Homo sapiens: one gene and its partner. The protein of the gene in region 1 binds, or shares a complex with, the protein of each later gene. Each region holds a gene or a part of one and is shown in the gene's direction. Other genes may lie near its edges.

Region 1 (9,873 bases):
GGACACAGAGCCAAACCATATCATTCAGCCCTTGGACCCTCCGAATCTCATGTCCTCACATTTCAAAAGCAATTATGCCTTCCCAACAATCCCCCAAAGTCTTAACTCATTTTAGCATTAACCCAAAAGTCCACAGTCCAAAGTCTCATCTGAGACAAGGCAAGTCTCTTCTGCCTATGAATCTGTGAAATCAAAAGCAAGCTAGTTACTTTCTAGATACAATGGGGTACAGGTATTAGGTAAATGCAGCTGTTACAAATGGGAGAAATTGGCCAAAACAAAGGGGTTACAGGGCACGTGCCCTGTAACAGAAAGCAGTCAAATTCTACAGCTTCAAAATGATATCCTTTGACTCCACGTCTCATATCCAGGTCATGCTGAGGCAAGAGGTAGGTTCCATTGTCTTGGGCAGCTCCATCCCTGTGGCTTTGCAGGGTATACCACCCCTCCTGGCTGCTTTCACGGGCTGGTGTTGAGTGTCTGTGGCTTTTCCAGGTGCACAGTGCAAGGTATCAGTGAATCTACCATTCTGGGGTCTAGAGGACTAGAGGACGGTGGCCCTCTTCTCACAGCTCCACTAGGTAGTGCCCCAGTAGCATCTCTGTGTGGGGGCTCTGACCCCACATTTCCTTTCTGTACGGCCTTAGCAGAGGTTCTCCATGAGGACCCCACCCCTGCAGCAAACTTTTGCCTGGGCATCCAGGCATTTCCATACATCCTCTGAAATCTAGGTGGAGGTTCCCAAACCCCAATTCTTTACTTCTGTGCACTTGCAGGCTCAAAACCACGTGGAAGCTGCCAAGGCTTGGGGCTTGCACCCTCTGAAACCACAGCCCAAGCTCCACATTGGCCCCTTTCAGCCACAGCTGGAGCAGCTGAGACACAGGGCACCAAGTTCCTAGGCTGTACACGCACGAGGACCCTTGGTCCAGCCCATGAAACCATATTTTCCTCCAAGGCCTCCAGGCCTGTGATGGGAAGAGCTGCTGTGAAGACCTCTCACATGCCCTGGAAACATTTTCCCCATTGTCTTGGCGATTAACATTTGGCTCCTCATTACTTATGCAAATTTCTGCAGACAGCTTGACTTTCTCCTCTGAAAATGGGATTTTCTTTTCTGTCACATTGTCAGGCTACAAATTTTCCAAACTATTATGCTCTGCTTCCCTGATAAAACTGAATACCTTTAACAGCACCCAAGACACCTCTTGAATACTTTGCTGTTTAGAAATTTCTTCCACCAGATACCCTAAATCATCTCTCTCAAGTTCAAAGCTCCACAAATCTCCAGGGCAGGGGCAAAATGCTGGCAGTCTCTGCTAAAATATAACGAGAGTCACTTTTGCTCCAGTTCCCAACAAGTTCCTCATCTCTATCTGAGACCACCTCAGCCTGGACCTTATTGTTAATATCACGATCAGCATTTTTGTCAAAGTCATTCAACAAGTCTCTAGGAGGCTCCAAACTTTCCCACACTTTCCTGTCTTCTTCCGAGCCCTCCAAACTGTTCCAACCTCTGCCTGATAACCAGTTCCAAAGTTGCTTCCACATTTTTGGGTACCTTTTCAGCAACGCCCCACTCTACTGGTACCAATTTACTGTATTAGTCCATTTTCATGCTGCTGATAAAGACATACCCAAGACTGGGAAGAAATACAGAAGAACTGTATTTGGACTTACAGTTCCACATGGCTGGGGAGGCCTCAGAGTCATGGCGGGAGGTGAAAGGCACTTCTTACATGGCAGCAGCAAGAGAAAATGAGGAAGATGCAAAAGTGTGGAAACCCCTGATAAAACCATCAGATCTCTTGAGACTTATTTACTACCATGAGAACAGTATGGGGGAAATCGCCCCCATGATTCAAATTATCTCCCATGATTCAAATTATATCCCACCAGGTCCTTCCCACAACATGTAGGAATTATGGAAGTACAATTCAAGATGAGATTTGGGTGGGGACACAGAGCCAAACCATATCAGTGGGAGAAGCTTCCTAGGTGAGATGACTTTTGAGTCCAGCAGAATAAAGAGTAATTTCTTTACTCTGGGGTGGGGGGAAAGAGATGGGGGAAAGCAGGCAAAAAATGGCATTCTAAGAAGAAAGAGTAATAGTTGCAAAATCAATTTGGATTTTTTAAAATGTTTTATTATAGAAATCATAAAGGGGGCCTGGTGTGGTGGCACACACCTGTAATCCTAGCACTTTGGGAGGCTGAGGTAGGAGGATCACTTGAGCTCAGGAATTGGAGACTAGACTGGGCAACACAGGGAGTCCCAATTTCTAGAAAAATAAAATTAGCCCAGCATAGTGGCATACACCTGTGGTTCCAGCTTCTTGGGAAGCTGAGGCAGGAGGAGGTCAAGGCTGCAGTGAACCATGATCACCCCCATTGCACTCTAGTCTGGGTGACAAAGCAAGATTCTATCTCAAAACAAAACACGAAGGAAGGAAGGAAGGGAGGGAAGGAAATAAGAAAGGAAAGGAAAAGGAAGGAAGGAAATAAGAAAGGAAAGGAAAAAAGGGAAGGAAGGAAGGAAATAAGAAAGGAAAGGAAAAGAAAGGGAAGGAAGGGAAGGAAGGAAGGAAAAAAGAAAGAAAAGAAAGAAAAACAAGAAAGAAAGAAAAAGAAAGAGAAAAATCATAATGGGATTTTGATAAATTTTTAAGTTAGTTTGGTGGAAATGGACAACTTTACAATATTGACTGTATTACTTTTCCACATAGTCAAGTCTTTACTTGTATCTTATATGGAAATATGGAAGTCAGGTTAAAGTATAAATACTGTTACGTAAGATTTGAGTCTTACTCCTGTTATGTAGTATATGAGACTTGGACCTTGGTCAAGTTACTCTCTAAGCCTCAATTTCCTAGTTTGTATGAAGGGGGTGATTGTAATACCTACTTCATGGGTTGTCATCAGTATTAAATAACATATTGCATGTAAAGCGCCTAACCAAGTGCTTTACACATCACATGCAATCAAATAAAAAGCTACTTCTTCCCCCCTCCCTTTTTACATGGCTTTATTTAGGTATAATTCACATACAATAAGCACTTATACATAAACATATTTACAGTGTACAATTTGGTAAGTTTTGACATATATATACGTCCATGCAGCTATTACCACAATCAAGATAATGAACATTTCTATCACTCCCAAAGTTTCCTTATGCCCCTTTGTGATCCTTCCTTCCACCCCTATCCCTCATCTAGCTATTATTCTCAATTCTTCAAATAGGTCTTGTAATTCCTTATAAACACAAACTTGATTTTTGTCATTTTTGAATGTAATCTTCCTCCCAGTACATTTCAATTTTTTTTTTTTTTTTTTTTTTTGAGACAGGGTGTCAGTCTTTTCTGCAGGCTGGAGTGCAGGCTGGTGGGATCATAGTTCATTCCAGCCTCAAACTCCTGGGCTCAACTGATCCTCCTGTTTCAGCCTCCTGAGTAGCTGGGATTATAGGTACATGCCACCATACCCAGCTACGTTTTTTTTGTTTTTTTTAGAAATGGGGTCTCACTATTTTGCCCAGGTTGGTCTTGAATTTCTAGCCTCAAGCAATCCTCCCTCATTGGCCTCCCAAAGTGCTGAGATTATAGGCATGAGCCATCACGCCCAGTCTTCTTCTCATTACATTTTAAAATTGATGATTGTTGTTTAGGAGAGGTATTTTATAGCCATCTTATTGAATTAGTTTCAGTTTATTCCATGGATTTTCCAAGAAAGCAATCAATCATAACACCCTAAGAATTTTTTTTAATTTTCTTTCCAACATATACACTTAATGTTTTGTTTGGACTTGCTGGGTTCAGTTAGGACTTCAGGAAAATGTCGGCCAGTAGTAGCAGGCCTGCCCCTAACAACTTGATGACCTAGAGTACACAAAAGAGGTCCACACACCATATGTTTGAATATTTAAAGATTATAAATCAAGCTAACCAACAGTTAGATTAAAAGGTTTTGGTCGGGCATGGTGGCTCACACCTGTAATCCCAGTACTTTGGGAGGCCGAGGCGGGCGGATCACGAGGTCAGGAGATCAAGACCATCCTGGCTAACATGGTGAAACTCTGTCTCTATTAAAAATACAAAAAATTAGCCGGGCATGTTGGCACACGCCTGTAGTCCCAGCTACTCAGGAGGCTGACACAGGATAATCGCTTGAATCTGGGAGGTGGAGGTTGCAGTGAGCTGAGATCATGCCACTGCACTCCAGCCTGGGCGAAAGAGCAAGACTCTGTCTAAAAAAAAAAAAAAAAAAAAAATGTTTATCCTACTACTTTGACACACCTAACTTACAGCAAACATACATATAACAACTTAGAAGTCCAGGTCCAAATTTAGAATCTTTGAGTACCACACCTCCTGATTTTGTACCTGAGGAAGCTTTTTCAGAACTTAACACAAATGATCTTTTATTTCAAAAGATCTTATTTCACTGATCCTTGCATAAAAAACATTTTCTCACAGTATTGCCTAATACTTTAATTTTTCTCCTTAGAATCAAAATTTGATAAATACATTCTGGAGCTCATTGTAAAACAAATATCAGTATACATTATGTCCCCAAAGAAAATCCAAATTGCTTGGTAGATTTGGTGCTTTGTTTTAGAAATTGTCTTTCAAGGCTTTTTAAAGGATCTACAGGCCCCTAATCTTCCCTGTTTACCTCCTACTCTACTGGAAGACCCTAAGAACTCAGTTTCCTTAACTGTGGTTTGAACATCCTGATCACTTCTGAGACAATGCCATTAGTGAATACATTCTAAGCACGTCATCTGAATATTCACAGACATCTTTTTAAAAGGGCTGGATCTGGAAGTTAGGCCATGAAGAGAGGAGGACCTGTGACTTGGACAAGGCTTCAAAGCCGGCCACCTGCTTGTTCATGTGGTTGCAGCTGGTCTAACTGGAATAACTTGGGAAGGAAATTAGGACACCCAGTTGGAGTTCCAGCTCTGCCATAAGCTGGCTGAACTGGAGTGAGTCACTTAAAACTCTTTGTTAAACCCCAGAGTCATAATCTATAAAATCGGGATAAAGACGTTTGCCTTAAGCCCTCCACCAGTTTTTGGAGGAAACCACAATTTGCTGAGCTTTAATTTTTACACCTGTTGCAATTAAGATGGCACTCCTGCCCTGTCCACTTCACAGGGCTTTTGGGGACGGGATGGGGAGGCACCACCTTTCTGAGCTTCAGTTTCAAAACAGAGCTAAGAATACATGCCCAACCCGCAAATAAAATTCTAGGAAGAACAGAGGAAAACGGACAGGAAAACTGCGAAATGCAGTCGGCCATACAAGCATGAATTGTCTTAAACACAACAAGCAGACCTAAAGAGCGTTTGTGCGTCTCTCTCCTCTTGGCTCGAGTCACAACCCCATAACGTAAATCAATATCACTTTTGAAAAAGGCTTTCGCTGTTCTCAGCAGCGTCCGCATTTGTACTCACCTGTGCGCCCCCAGCGCCCGGCCTGGGGGCCCTGCGGGGCGGGGGCGGGGGCGGGGGCGGGGCCCAACCCTGCCCACCCCTCGTGATGCCCCGCCCCGTCGCTCCTGCGCCTGCGCCGTGCCCACCGACCGGCCTCGAGCGCCCCGGCGGGAGGTAAGGGGCTCTCTGGAGGCCGCCTTTGGGGGCGTCGGGCCCTCACAGGCTTGGTGGGCCTGGCGCCCGTGTGGCGCGCGCAAGAGGCGCTGGGCGGCAAGTAGGGCATTGGATCCGAAGTGCGAGCGCCATGGTGGCTCCTCCTGTTTTTCAGAAGTGGCGGAGCCTCGCTTGGTTTCGTTTTTGGAAGCTTTATTGGAAGCTGGTATAGGGAGGCCGCAGACGATGCGAGCAGGACGGCCTCCCGGGGTCGCGGGGTGGAAAAGTTTCCGGCGCGCGTCCTGTCTCTGGCGCGCTGTAGGCCCCGGGTCGCCAGGGTCGCTGGCGTCTGGGTCCCGGGACAGACCCGCGCATCCGTTCGCTGGTGGGGGCGTTTGGTGTGTGTGGCCCAGGTGTGCTGTGGGTGACACTGCGAGGAATGACGCGACGCTCGATGGTAGTGAGGCTCGGAGGACTGGGAGCGAGAGGCCGGAAGCCCCTGCTCGCCAAACCCAGAGGTGGTTGGCAGAAGGTCCCACACCTTGGCTCCCTCCTTTTAGCTAACCGAGGTTCAGAGAGGAGACTTTACTTTGACTTTTCTCTCCAAATTCGGTATCTCTTCCATAAGTCAGAAACATTAAGCGGCGGGCCGGAAGAAATCGGGCGCCACTAGTATCCTGAAAAGTGGGAGCTCTGGGCCGATGGAAGGTGTTCGTCACTTTTGGGGGCTGGGTTTCCTGAGAAATGGGGTCTTTCACTTATTAATAACCTCCTAAGTAACTTACTGGGAAACATGAGTATTATGGTACCCATCTCATATTAGTTGTAAGCACTACATGATAAAGTTTGTAAAGCACCTGGCACAGTCCTGGCACCCCTCTCTCCAAGTATTAATGCAGTGAATACGATGGCAGTTCTTTGACTTCTAAATGTTTTTACCTGTCTTACGTGAAACATCCTCTTATACTAAAAAACTTTTTTATTTTGAAATAATTTTAAAATTACAGAAAAGTTTCAAAAGTAATACAGAGTTCCCTATTGCCTCCATTAATAATTTTTTACATACCATAGCGCAATTATCAAAAGCAAGAAGTTAATATTAGTATAATACTATTAACTGAATTACTAACTTGTGATTTTTTTTCCTGTATTAATGTCCTTTTTCTATTCTAGGATCCACTCTAAGACCCGACATTGCAGTTAGTTGTCTTGGGTCCTTGGTCTCCTCCAGTCTGTGACAGTTCCTCTGTCTTTTCCTGTCTTTACACTGATAGTCTTTTTCTGTCTTTATACTCTTTCTGATCTTTACACTTTTGAAGAATGCTGGTCAGTTATTTTGTAGAGTGCCCCTCAAATGGGGTTTGTCCAGTGTTCTCTCATGATTAGATTAAGGTTATACATTTTTGTTAAGAACACAAAAGTGTGTGTGCCCTTCTCAGTTCATCATATGAGCATAGCTGATATATATGACTTATTGCTCGTGAGGTTAATCTTGATCACTTGGTAGAGAGTGTCTGCTGGGATTCTCCAATGTAAAGGTCTTATTTTTCTCCTTATAATTGACATCTTGGGGGGGAGCTTTTAAACCGTACGCATATCCTGTTTCTCCTCAGACTTTCCCTTGCTAAATTTCACATCCATTGGTGGATCTTGCCTTCAGCAATTATTATGACTATGGTGTTCTAATGATGATTTTCTACTTTCCTCATTTCTTTATTAATTGAAATTATTCTGTAAGGATGAGCTGCCCATTTCCCATTTGTTTATTTGTATTCCGTTATTTATTTGTATCCATGTGGACTTAGATGTTTTTCTATTGGTTGTTATCCTACACTTGTGTTATTTTATGTTTGAAATTGTTCCAGCTTTGATCATTGGGAGTTTTCTTTCAGGTTGCTTTCTGTAGCTTTTCAGCATGCTTCCATCCTTTTTTTTCTTTTTTGGAACTTCCTAATTTTCTGGTACCATAGGATGCCCCAGGCTCATCTTGTGTTTTCTGTGCCTCAGCCCTGATAGTCAGCCACTTCTCCAACGACCCGTAGTTTCTTTTTTTGGAGAATAGTATTTAAACACAAAGATCTGTGCTCTAGGGATGCTCATTGCTACTGGGGTAACATTGCTTCCAGGGCCCCACAGAAGACACCAGTCTATACATATGCATACCCATGCATACACAAAGATCTATGTTTATTTCTGTATTTGTCTATCCATATACTTTTTAAAAACAAAAGTTCATCCCAGTAGCTTTGCTTCTAGTCTAACACCACAGGGTTCATTCTAGTTTTGTCCCTTATTTTTAACTTTTTATCTGACAGTGAGAAATCTGACTCTTGGCATTCTACAAAATATTTTCTTATTTCTTCAGTCCTAGTATACACATAAAGTAATTTCAGGATTTCTGACCTATGTTCCTGTGAGAAACACATTTACTAAATAGAGTACAGTGTAGTTCTTTTTGTCTCTAGGCTTATAGTATTCAGTTAAAATATTGTTTTCTAAAGTGGCTTAGATAATTTTTCTTCCTCACTTCTTTCAGTGTGGTTATGCTATTCGTTTATAATACAGTTTATGTTTTTATAGTTTATATTCCATTTTGGAGGGAAAGAGTCTAAAGGTAGACTAATTGAAGCTCCATTATCATGGCTATGCATATTGTGCTATTTGACTAGAGTGATAGGATTAGCAATTGTATAGAAGGGACGTGTGAAGAAATATTTTAGTTCAGGCAGCATCTATTGAACAACAGGTGTGTTCAAAAAACATTTTGATAGGAATGATGGTAGATATAAAGATAATCTCTTTGTGGTATAGAAGAAAAGAAAAGAGGCAGTGTGATAGATTGGGAAATGTTAATGTTAGACAAATAATTGATACATTTAACATGTAATAGCCTTTTATGAGTTAATAAGAGAAAGACATCCCCTGTAGTAAAAACAGATGCATATGACATGAACAGGCAATTCATGAAAGAAGAAATGCAATGAGTACAAAAAAATAGTGATAGAGGATGAATAAAATATAGTACTTGATAGCCGAACAGGGTGACTATAATAATTCAATTGTATATTTAAAAATAACTAAAAGAGTATAACTGGATTGTTTGCAACACAAAGAATAAATGCTTGAGGTGATGGATACCTCATTTACCCTAATGTGATTATTACACATTGTATGCCTGTATCAAAATAACTCAAATATCCCATAAATATATACCTACTACTAATATATACCCACAAAAATTAAAAATTAAAAAAAGAAGAAATGCAGCTGGGCATGGTGCCTCACACTTGTAATCCTAGCACTTTGGGAGGCCGAGGCAGGTGGATCACCTGAGGTCGGGAGTTCGAGACCAGCCTGGCCAACATGGTGAAACCCCGTCTCTACTAAAAATACAAAAATTAGCTGGGCGTGGTGGCACGTGCCTGTAATCCCAGCTACTTGGGAGGCTGAGGCAGGAGAGTCACTTGAACCTAAGGGGCGGAGGTTGCAGTGAGCTGAGATCGCACCACTTCACTCCAGCCTGGGCAAAAGAGTGAGACTCCGTCTCAAAACAAAAAAAAAGAAAAAAAAAAAAGAAATGCAAATGGCTGATAAATCCACCCTGTTAGTAATTTAAGGAATGCAAAGTAAAGCAATAATGAGACATCATTTTTTTCACCAATGACATGTCTAAGAATGATAATACTAAGTATATTGCTTGGAATATGGATAAATGGACATTGTGTTATGTTTCTGGTAGGAACATAATAGGCATAACCTTTTGTGGGATATGGCTATATATATGTTTTAAAAACCTTGAAAAATCTGTCTACCTAATAATTCTATTTCTAGATATTTATTTTTTATTTTTATGTTACTTTTTTCAATTAATACACAATAATTTTACATATTTATAGGATACATGTGATGTTTTGATACATACATACAATGTGTAATGATCAAATCAGGGTATTTGGGATATATATCATGTCAAACATTTATTATTTCTTTGTGTTAGGAGCACTTCAGATCTTCTAGCTATTTTGAAATATGCAATAAATTATTGTTAACTATAGCTACCTCACTGTGTTATTAAACATGAATAATGTATTCCTTCTATCTAACTGTATGTTTGTACCCATTAATCAACTTCTCTTCACCCCTCCTGCCCCTTCCCATCACTCTACTCTCTACCTCCAGGAGATCAACTTTTTTCCCCCTTTTTATTTAGAAATGGAGGTCTCATTATATTGCCCAGGCTGGCTTCTAATTTCTGGGCTCAAGTGATCCTCCTACCTCGGCTT
Region 2 (7,562 bases), on another chromosome or scaffold:
AAGTCCACAGAGCAGTAATAGGCTTGGTTTCATGGACTGGGATTAGAGTGAGTGACTAGAGTAAGTAAACACAACTGTGGCATGTAGAGAGACAAAGGTAGGGAAGGTTATGTCATTAATGTACCTCAAGTGTCACTAAAACCATGTCAGGGCTGCCTGAGTTACCAATGTCTGAGCTGAGATGTGAGGTCTGGTTCTGCAAACTTAGCCTTCGCCAGGTCAACCCTATCTAGATCAAGCCCCACGCAGTCCTCCAATCTCTCAGGAAGAAAGAAGAGAAAAAAATAGAAGCAAAGAGAAGGGGAAGAGGGAAGAGAGAAGGGGAGGGATTGGGTTTTAAATACTCATCTCCCCCTATAAGTCTCCATCTTTATTATCTCAGGTGCGTACTCTAAAATTCCTTTACTCTTAAGAACAAGAAACTTGGCCGGGCGTGGTGGCTCACGCCTGCAATCCTGGCACTTTGGGAGGCCGAGGTGGGCGGATCACCTGAGGTCAGGAGTTTGAGACCAGCCTGGCCAACACGGCGAAACCCCATCTCTACTAAAAATACAAAAATTAGCTGGGTGTGGTGGCAGGTGCCTGTAGTCCCAGCTACTCAGGAGACTGAGGCAGGAGAATCGCTTGAACCCGGGAGGTGGAGGTTGCAGTGAACCGAGATCATGCCACTGCACTCCAGCCTGGGCAACAAGAGTGAAACTGTCTCAAAAAAAAAAAAAAAAGAACAAGAAACTTTTCCTTGGGAATGCTAAGGGCTTTTTGTCAATTGCTTCAAAAGGAGGAATGTAGTAAAACACATATTATAGGACTACATATTTTATATATATATATTTTTATTATACTTTAAGTTCAAGGGTACATGTGCACAACATGCAGGTTTGTTACATATGTATACATGTGCCAGGGACTACATATTAACAATGATCCCTAGCATAATCAAGTCGCAAGATCTTAGATAAGGATGAGAGGAATTCACATATATTTAATGGGGTCAGCCACTTACAGAAGCCTCCTCTATGAAATAAGGTGCTTCAGGGGTCCCCAGACTGCCCACATGTATATAGTTGTACTCATGGCTAAATTTTTTACAGTGAATGGATATCAGCAATAGGAAAGGACCTCAAGTGTCACTAAAAGCATGTCAGGGCTGCCTGTAGAAACCCATGCACAGGCTTCCTTATGTTCTCTCCCTCCTGTGAGGATATACATCAAGCTTGCTCCTTGCTACAGCAGCAAAATATTCAATACATGTGTGCAGTTTGTGCCCAGGAAAGTCCATTAGAGAATCAGCACCCTAAGTTTTTAATTTATGCACCACCAGCCTAGCCATCAGATTCCCAGAAGGAAAGCAGGTATTCAACATAAATCATAGTTTGTAAAAAGGATCTAGGCATAGTGAACCATCTTTATTACTAATAGTTACAGGATTGAGGAAAGCATTCAAGTGCTTATTTCCCAGATGCCAGCCAAAGGCCAACTTTGTAAGCAGGCTCTTGTAAAAACAGCAGCCCCAGTGCTGCTCTATTCACTCTTCTTCACAGAAGTGATTAGTAATAGCTAGGCACAGTGGCTCATGCCTGTAATCCCGGCACTTTGGGAGACCAAGGCGGGTGGATTACTTGAAGTCAGGAGTTCAAGACCAGCCTGGCCAATAGGGTGAAACCCCGTCTCCACTAAATACTAAATACTAAACCCCGTCTCTACTAAATACTAAAAAATTTGCCCGGGGTGGTGGCACACGCCTGTAGTCCCAGCTACTCAGGAGGCTACAGTGGAAAAATAGCTTGAAACTGAGAGGCAGAGGTTGCAGTGAGCCGAGATCTCACCACTGCACTCCAGCCTGGGCAACAGAGCGAGACTCCCTCTCAAAAAAACCAAAAAAGTGATTGGTAAATGTTGCCAATGAGACTGAAGTACTTCCTAAAGTAAGTGGCATTAGGGAGCTGCCAACCTGTGGCTATGGCTGTGTTCCTTGTAAAATATAATCTTTTTCTTTTTTTTTTTTTTTTGAGACAGTTTTGCTCTTGTCACCCAGGCTGAAGTGCAATGGCGCAATCTTGGCTCACTGCAACCTCTGCCTCTCAGGTTCAAGCGATTCTCCTGCCTCAGCCTCCCAAGTAGCTGGGATTAGAGGCACGTGCCACCACACCTGGCTAATGTTGGGTTTTTAGCAGAGACAGGGTTTCACCATGTTGGCCAGGCTGGTCTCAAACTCCGACCTCAAGTGATCTGCCTGTCTCAGCCTCCCAAAGTGCTGGGATTACAGGCATGAGCCACCGTGCCCCATCATAAAATATAATCTTGACAACTGAAGCAGTTATTACTACAAAGCTAAGAATGTTGCAATTACAGAATGTTCTCGTGACTAGTGAACATGGCTGAAGAAGCAAATTGAGCTCAAGGTGCCCTTTTCTGAGTTACTGAGTGGAAAGGGTGCTACCACTGCTGGAGCTGCAGGACCAGCTTCTTAAAGATCATCCAATTCACTGCATTCTCTTCTCTCTCCTCCCAGAATCCAGCAATCAGTCATAAGATATATTTGTTGGCTCTCCTGCTAAGAAGCGAATGTGCTGACTAGCTAGCATGAGTTTGATTCAATAAAACAGCACTACACTCCATTAGTCAGACTATCTAATGATAACAGTGCTCATACATTAGGTACCCACGTGCCTTTTTGTTGCTCTTCACAATACTCCTATGAAGTACTACCTTGTATTTGACAGAAGATAGCAAAGTATCAGAGAAGGGAACTGACCTGTCTAGAGTCACACTAGTGAAAGCAAGTGATACAGGATTTAAATTCAGAGGTTCCATTTTCCAAACTCATGTCCTTTCCATTGCATTGTACTCCCTCTTTAGCTAGAAGTCAGGTTAGCACCAATCTGCCGGGACCTTCTCACCCCGAAGGTGCATGATAAAATCAAATATGAGAACCGACAAGGCCAAGGACCAGGTCACTCTGCCAAAAGTGCCTAAAACAGCCTTTCAGCTTCATCCATCAGCAGACAGCCACAAAACCACTCCCAACTGCAGCAGGCTGGTCTCCGGTCACCACTGTCTTATCTTGTCGGAAAACATCCTCTCTCCATGTGCCAAAAAGTTGAGTGGGAAAATAATTCCATCCTTTCAGAGCTAAACACTGTGCTGAGTCTCATCGCACACGGGTGGGCAAAGAAAGTTGACATTTACTGCTCACCCACTCTGTGCCTTGACCTGTGCAAGATGCTTTATGCTAGAACTCATTTAATTCTCAAGAACAACCTCATTTTACAGATAAGGATACAGAGGCTCTAAGAGTTAAATTTACCCAAGAGGACATGGTAAGTAAGTGCCAGTGCAGGGAACAAATTCAGGTCCCACTCTAAAATCTGTCTCTTTCCAGATCTCAAGGCACACCACTGAGTTGCCTTTCACCTTTCTCCCAAGATGAGGATTGCTCTGGCATGACTTCACCTTTCTCTTCTGAAGCAATTCCAAGTTCACTTCTCTGCCCACTGACAGTTCACTCTCCTTTCCCTGCCACTGTCCCTTCTGCAAACGCACAATCTTTTACCCAACCTAACGCCCCCAGCCTCGTAGAATAACACTGCGCAGTTGGTTTACAGTCACAAAGCACTTTCAAGACAGTGTTTCGTCTCCTGGTCACCACAGTCCGGTGAAGCCGGCAAAGCAGATAAAAGCATCCCCATTTTACAAGAAAGCCATCTTCCCAAGGTCGCGGAATAAAAAGCAGGTGAAATCGGAAGCAGAACCCCAGGTCTTGACCCCTGGTCCTCGGCTCATCCCACTGCTCCGCACAGCCGCCCACGATCCAGCCTCCACCTCCGCGATGTCACAAGATGCTCCCTGGGCCAGCAGCTCACATCCCCCACCCCCATCCCACAACCACCCACCTGCAGCGGCCCTGCAGGCCCCGCCGACCCTTCCCCCACGGTCCCTCTCTCTTCACCAGCCCCTCCCACTAGGGCCTCCTTCCCCCGCTAGATCCCTCCGCTCAGGCGCCCCCTCCCGCACAGGCTGCCGGCGAGCCCAGCCTCGGCCTCCCACAGACCCTCGTCCCGCCTCCACGCTTCGTCACCCCAGCCCCTCCTCCTGTCAGCCCGCGGCCCAGCCCGCCGACGTTACCTTCTCCAAGGATGCTGGTCTCTGCACCGCCAGGGAGCGGGCCAGTGACAGGACCGTGTTGAAATAGAAGCCCCGCGAGGCGCTGGAGCCGGAGCCGGAGCAGCCGCCGCCGCCTCCGCCTCCGCCTCCGCCTCCCCGGGCCGGGGCCGCCGCCATCACCTCACGAGCCGCGGCGCTGCCCGCCGGCTCCCCGCTCCTGGCCCGCGAGCGCCCGACCTCAGGGCGCAGGCGTAGGTGCATCCGGCTTTCCCGCCACGTGACCTCTCAGTTGCTGACACTAGATAGGGCGTGGCTGCGGGGCGGGCCCACCGCTGCAGGGGAGAGAGGGGATGGACAGTAGGCTGCGGTTGCGCGCGCCGGATGTGGGCCCCCCCCAGCCGACCTGCGCGATGGTCGGCTCCGAGGGCGGGGCCACCTGCGCGCGACGCGCGGAAGGAGTTCGCGCGACGACCGCGGGGTCGGCGGGCGGGGCGAGGCCCTGGACGGCGGCGGCAGTGGGGCTCCTCCTTCTGTTTCCCAGACCGAGAGCCGCGCCGGCACCATGTCAGCTTACCCTAAAAGCTACAATCCGTTCGACGACGACGGGGAGGACGAAGGCGCCCGGCCGGCCCCTTGGAGGGACGCCCGAGACCTCCCCGACGGGCCCGACGCGCCCGCGGACAGGCAGCAGTACTTGCGGCAGGAGGTCCTCCGCAGGGCTGAGGCCACGGCCGCCAGCACCAGCAGGTCCCTGGCCCTCATGTACGAGTCCGAGAAGGTTGGGGTCGCCTCTTCCGAGGTGAGCCTGGGGCAGGGCTGGTGTGGACTCGCCGGTCTCTGTGCTGTCAAACGGAGACGAGAAATGTTTTGCTCACAATCTTTTGAGAATTCTCAAGTTGCCTAGCATAGATTCTTGCACCTTAGTGACTCGATGGTGGTAACAATCTGTTAACTATGTAAAGGTATGTGCATCTGGAGTACTTGAAGAGGGCAGTTTACCCCAGAAATCTTCCTTAGCTATTAGTCTGCTTCGTTGATTTTTTTTTTCTTACGCCTAGCTCACGGGGAAACGCCAGATTATTTTCTGTCCAGGTGAGTAAAAATTCTGAACAGCAGGTCCTAGGTTTGGGAAATGGAGAGTCCGTTTCTTCGACATTATTTCCTGTGCAAAATCTGGCACAGGGTTTTGGCCATTCCTTCCGGAGTGAGCCAGAAAGAGAGGACTATGTGCCTGCGAGTGTCAGGTGATACCCTGAAGCATCAGGGCAGGTGGTCCACGAGTTCTTCCCGCATCATTGACATCTCCACCTAACCAACCAATAGAGGTATTGAAGTCCCTTCAGCCCAGACAGCTGCCTAGTTGACCAAAGCCTGGGTTTGATTGAGTCCAGGGTCTTACCTTTACTTCCCAAATCCTAGACAAATAGTGTGCGGGTTAAGAGTTTGTTGCTCCAACTCATCTTCATCAGTTCTTCCCATCCTTAGATTTCAGAGAGTAGTACCTTCAATAACAATTATTCTGGCCGAGCGCAGTGACTCACGCCTGTAATCCCAGCACTTTGGGAGGCCTAGGCGTCGGATCGCCTGAGCTCAGGAGTTCGAGACCCGCCTGGGCAACATGGTGAAACCCTGTCTCCACTAAAATTAAAAAAAAAAAAAAACTAGCCGGGTGTGGCGGTGCGCCTGTAGTCGCAGCTACTCAGGAGGCTGAGGTAGGAGAATCGCTTGTACCCGGGAGGCAGAGGTTGCAGTTAGCTGAGATCGTGCTGCTGCACTCCAGCATGGGCAACAGACCGAGATCCTGGAGGGTCTTTTTCTTTTTCTTTTTTTTTTTTTTTTGAGATGGAATCTCGCTCTGTCGCCCTTGCTTGGGTACAGTGGCATGATCTGGGCTCACTGCAACTTCCGCCTCCGGGATTCAGACGATTCTCCTGCCTCAGCCTCCCGAGTAGCTGGGACTACAGGTGCGCCGCCACACCCGGCTAATTTTTTTTGTATTTGTAGTGGAGACAGGGTTTTGCCCCGTTGGCCAGGCTGGTCTGGAACTCCTGACCTCAGGCAGTCCGCCCGCTTTGGCCTCCCAAAGGGCTGGGATTACAGGCGTGAGCCACCATACCGGTCGAGAATGATTCTTTATTGTACACCACAGTCTCTCTTCAGCCTGCTAATGAAACAGTTTTGTTTGGACAGAGAAAAAAAAAGGTTTAAAAAAATGTATAAGCCAGGCGCGGTTGTACTTCTGTAATCCCAACAATTTGTAAGGCTGAGGTAGGCAGATCATTTTAGCCCAGGAGTTTGAGACCAGCAGGGGTAACTGCGTCTCTACAAAATTTGAAAAATTAGCCAGGCATGGTGGCACACACATGTGAGTGCAGCTACTGAGGAGGCTGAGGCAGGAGGACCGCTTGAGCCCAGGATGTCAAGGTTGCAGTGAGCCATGTTCATACCACTGCACTCCAGCTTGGGCGACAGAGCAACACGCTATCATTTCCCCTTGCTGTTTTCTTGGGTTAATTCCCTTCCCCACCTCTCTCTGTTCATGTATCCCTCATTGATCCACCTCCCTGTGGTTTTTTTTTTTTTTTTTTGAGACAGATTCTCGCTCTGTCACCAGACTGGAGTGCAGTGGCACCAACTTGGCTCACTACAGCCTCCGCCTCCTGGGTTCAAGTGATTCTCCTGCCTCAGCCTCCTGAGTAGCTGGGACTAAGGCGTGCACTACCACACCCAGCTAATTTTGGTATTAATAGAGTTGGGGTTTTGCCATGTTGGCCAGGATGGTCTCGATCTCTTGACCTCGTGATCCACCACCTCGGCCTCCCAAAGTCCTGGGATTATAGGCGTGAGCCACTGCACCTAGCCCACCTCCCTGTGTTTAACTGTTGGTTTTTTATTTTTGTTTTGTTTGAGACAAAGTCTTACTCTGTCACCCAGGCTGGAGTGCGATGGTGTGATCTCGGCTCACTGCAACCTCCACCTCCCCAGTTCAAATGATTCTCCTGCCTCAACCTCCCAAGTAGCTGGGATTAGAGGCACCTGCTACAACACCTGGCTAATTTTTTTGTTTTTGTTTTTGTTTTTGTTTTTTTGGTGTTTTTTGTTTTTGAGACGGAGTCTTGCTCTGTCTCCCAGGCTAGAGTTCAGTGGCGCGATCTCAGCTCACTGCTACCTCTGCCTCCCAGGTCAAGCGATTCTCCTGCCTCAACCTCCTGAGTAGCTGGGCTTACAGGCACCCGCCGCCATGCCCAGCTAATTTTTGTATTTTTAGTAGAGACGGGGTTTCACTGTGTTGGTCCGGCTGGTCTTGAACTCCTGACCTCATGATCCACCTGCCTTGGCCTCCCAAAGTGTTGGGATTACAGGCGTGAGCGACCACACCTGGCCTCTGATTTTTGTATTTTTAGTAGAGACAGGTTTCGCCATGTTGGGCAGGCTGGTCTCAAACGCCTGACCTTAGG

Evidence for each region.
Region 2: the proteins of STX17 (region 1) and SNAP29 are in contact, whole or in part, in a crystal structure (PDB 4WY4), measured with the Homo sapiens proteins. Residues at the interface, in NP_060389.2 of Homo sapiens: Glu170, Trp172, Glu173, Leu175, Glu176, Leu179, Ile180, Ser183, Val186, Thr187, Phe189, Ser190, Val193, Asn194, Gln196, Gln197, Ile200, Ile203, Ala204, Val207, Asn208, Ala210, Ala211, Val214, Glu215, Thr218, Leu221, Gly222, Ala224, Ala225; in NP_004773.1 of Homo sapiens: Arg52 (codon at 4,820), Thr56 (codon at 4,832), Ser59 (codon at 4,841), Thr60 (codon at 4,844), Arg62 (codon at 4,850), Ser63 (codon at 4,853), Leu66 (codon at 4,862), Glu69 (codon at 4,871), Ser70 (codon at 4,874), Val73 (codon at 4,883), Gly74 (codon at 4,886), Ser77 (codon at 4,895), Glu80, Leu81, Gln84, Val87, Leu88, Thr91, Met94, Val95, Lys97, Met98, Asp101, Leu102, Ile104, Ser105, His108, Ile109, Ser111, Ile112.

Annotation. Positions count from the first base shown.
Region 1 is NC_000009.12:99,901,096-99,910,968, forward strand, and holds the start of STX17 (syntaxin-17), read left to right. Parts: upstream 1-5,558; 5' UTR 5,559-5,611; exon of another isoform or gene 5,612-6,108; intron 6,109-9,873. UniProt on the Homo sapiens protein: SNAREs, soluble N-ethylmaleimide-sensitive factor-attachment protein receptors, are essential proteins for fusion of cellular membranes.
Region 2 is NC_000022.11:20,854,445-20,862,006, forward strand, and holds the start of SNAP29 (synaptosomal-associated protein 29), read left to right. Parts: upstream 1-4,562; 5' UTR 4,563-4,666; coding exon 4,667-4,903; intron 4,904-7,562. Other genes in the region: PI4KA (phosphatidylinositol 4-kinase alpha), read right to left, coding at 4,126-4,281. UniProt on the Homo sapiens protein: SNAREs, soluble N-ethylmaleimide-sensitive factor-attachment protein receptors, are essential proteins for fusion of cellular membranes.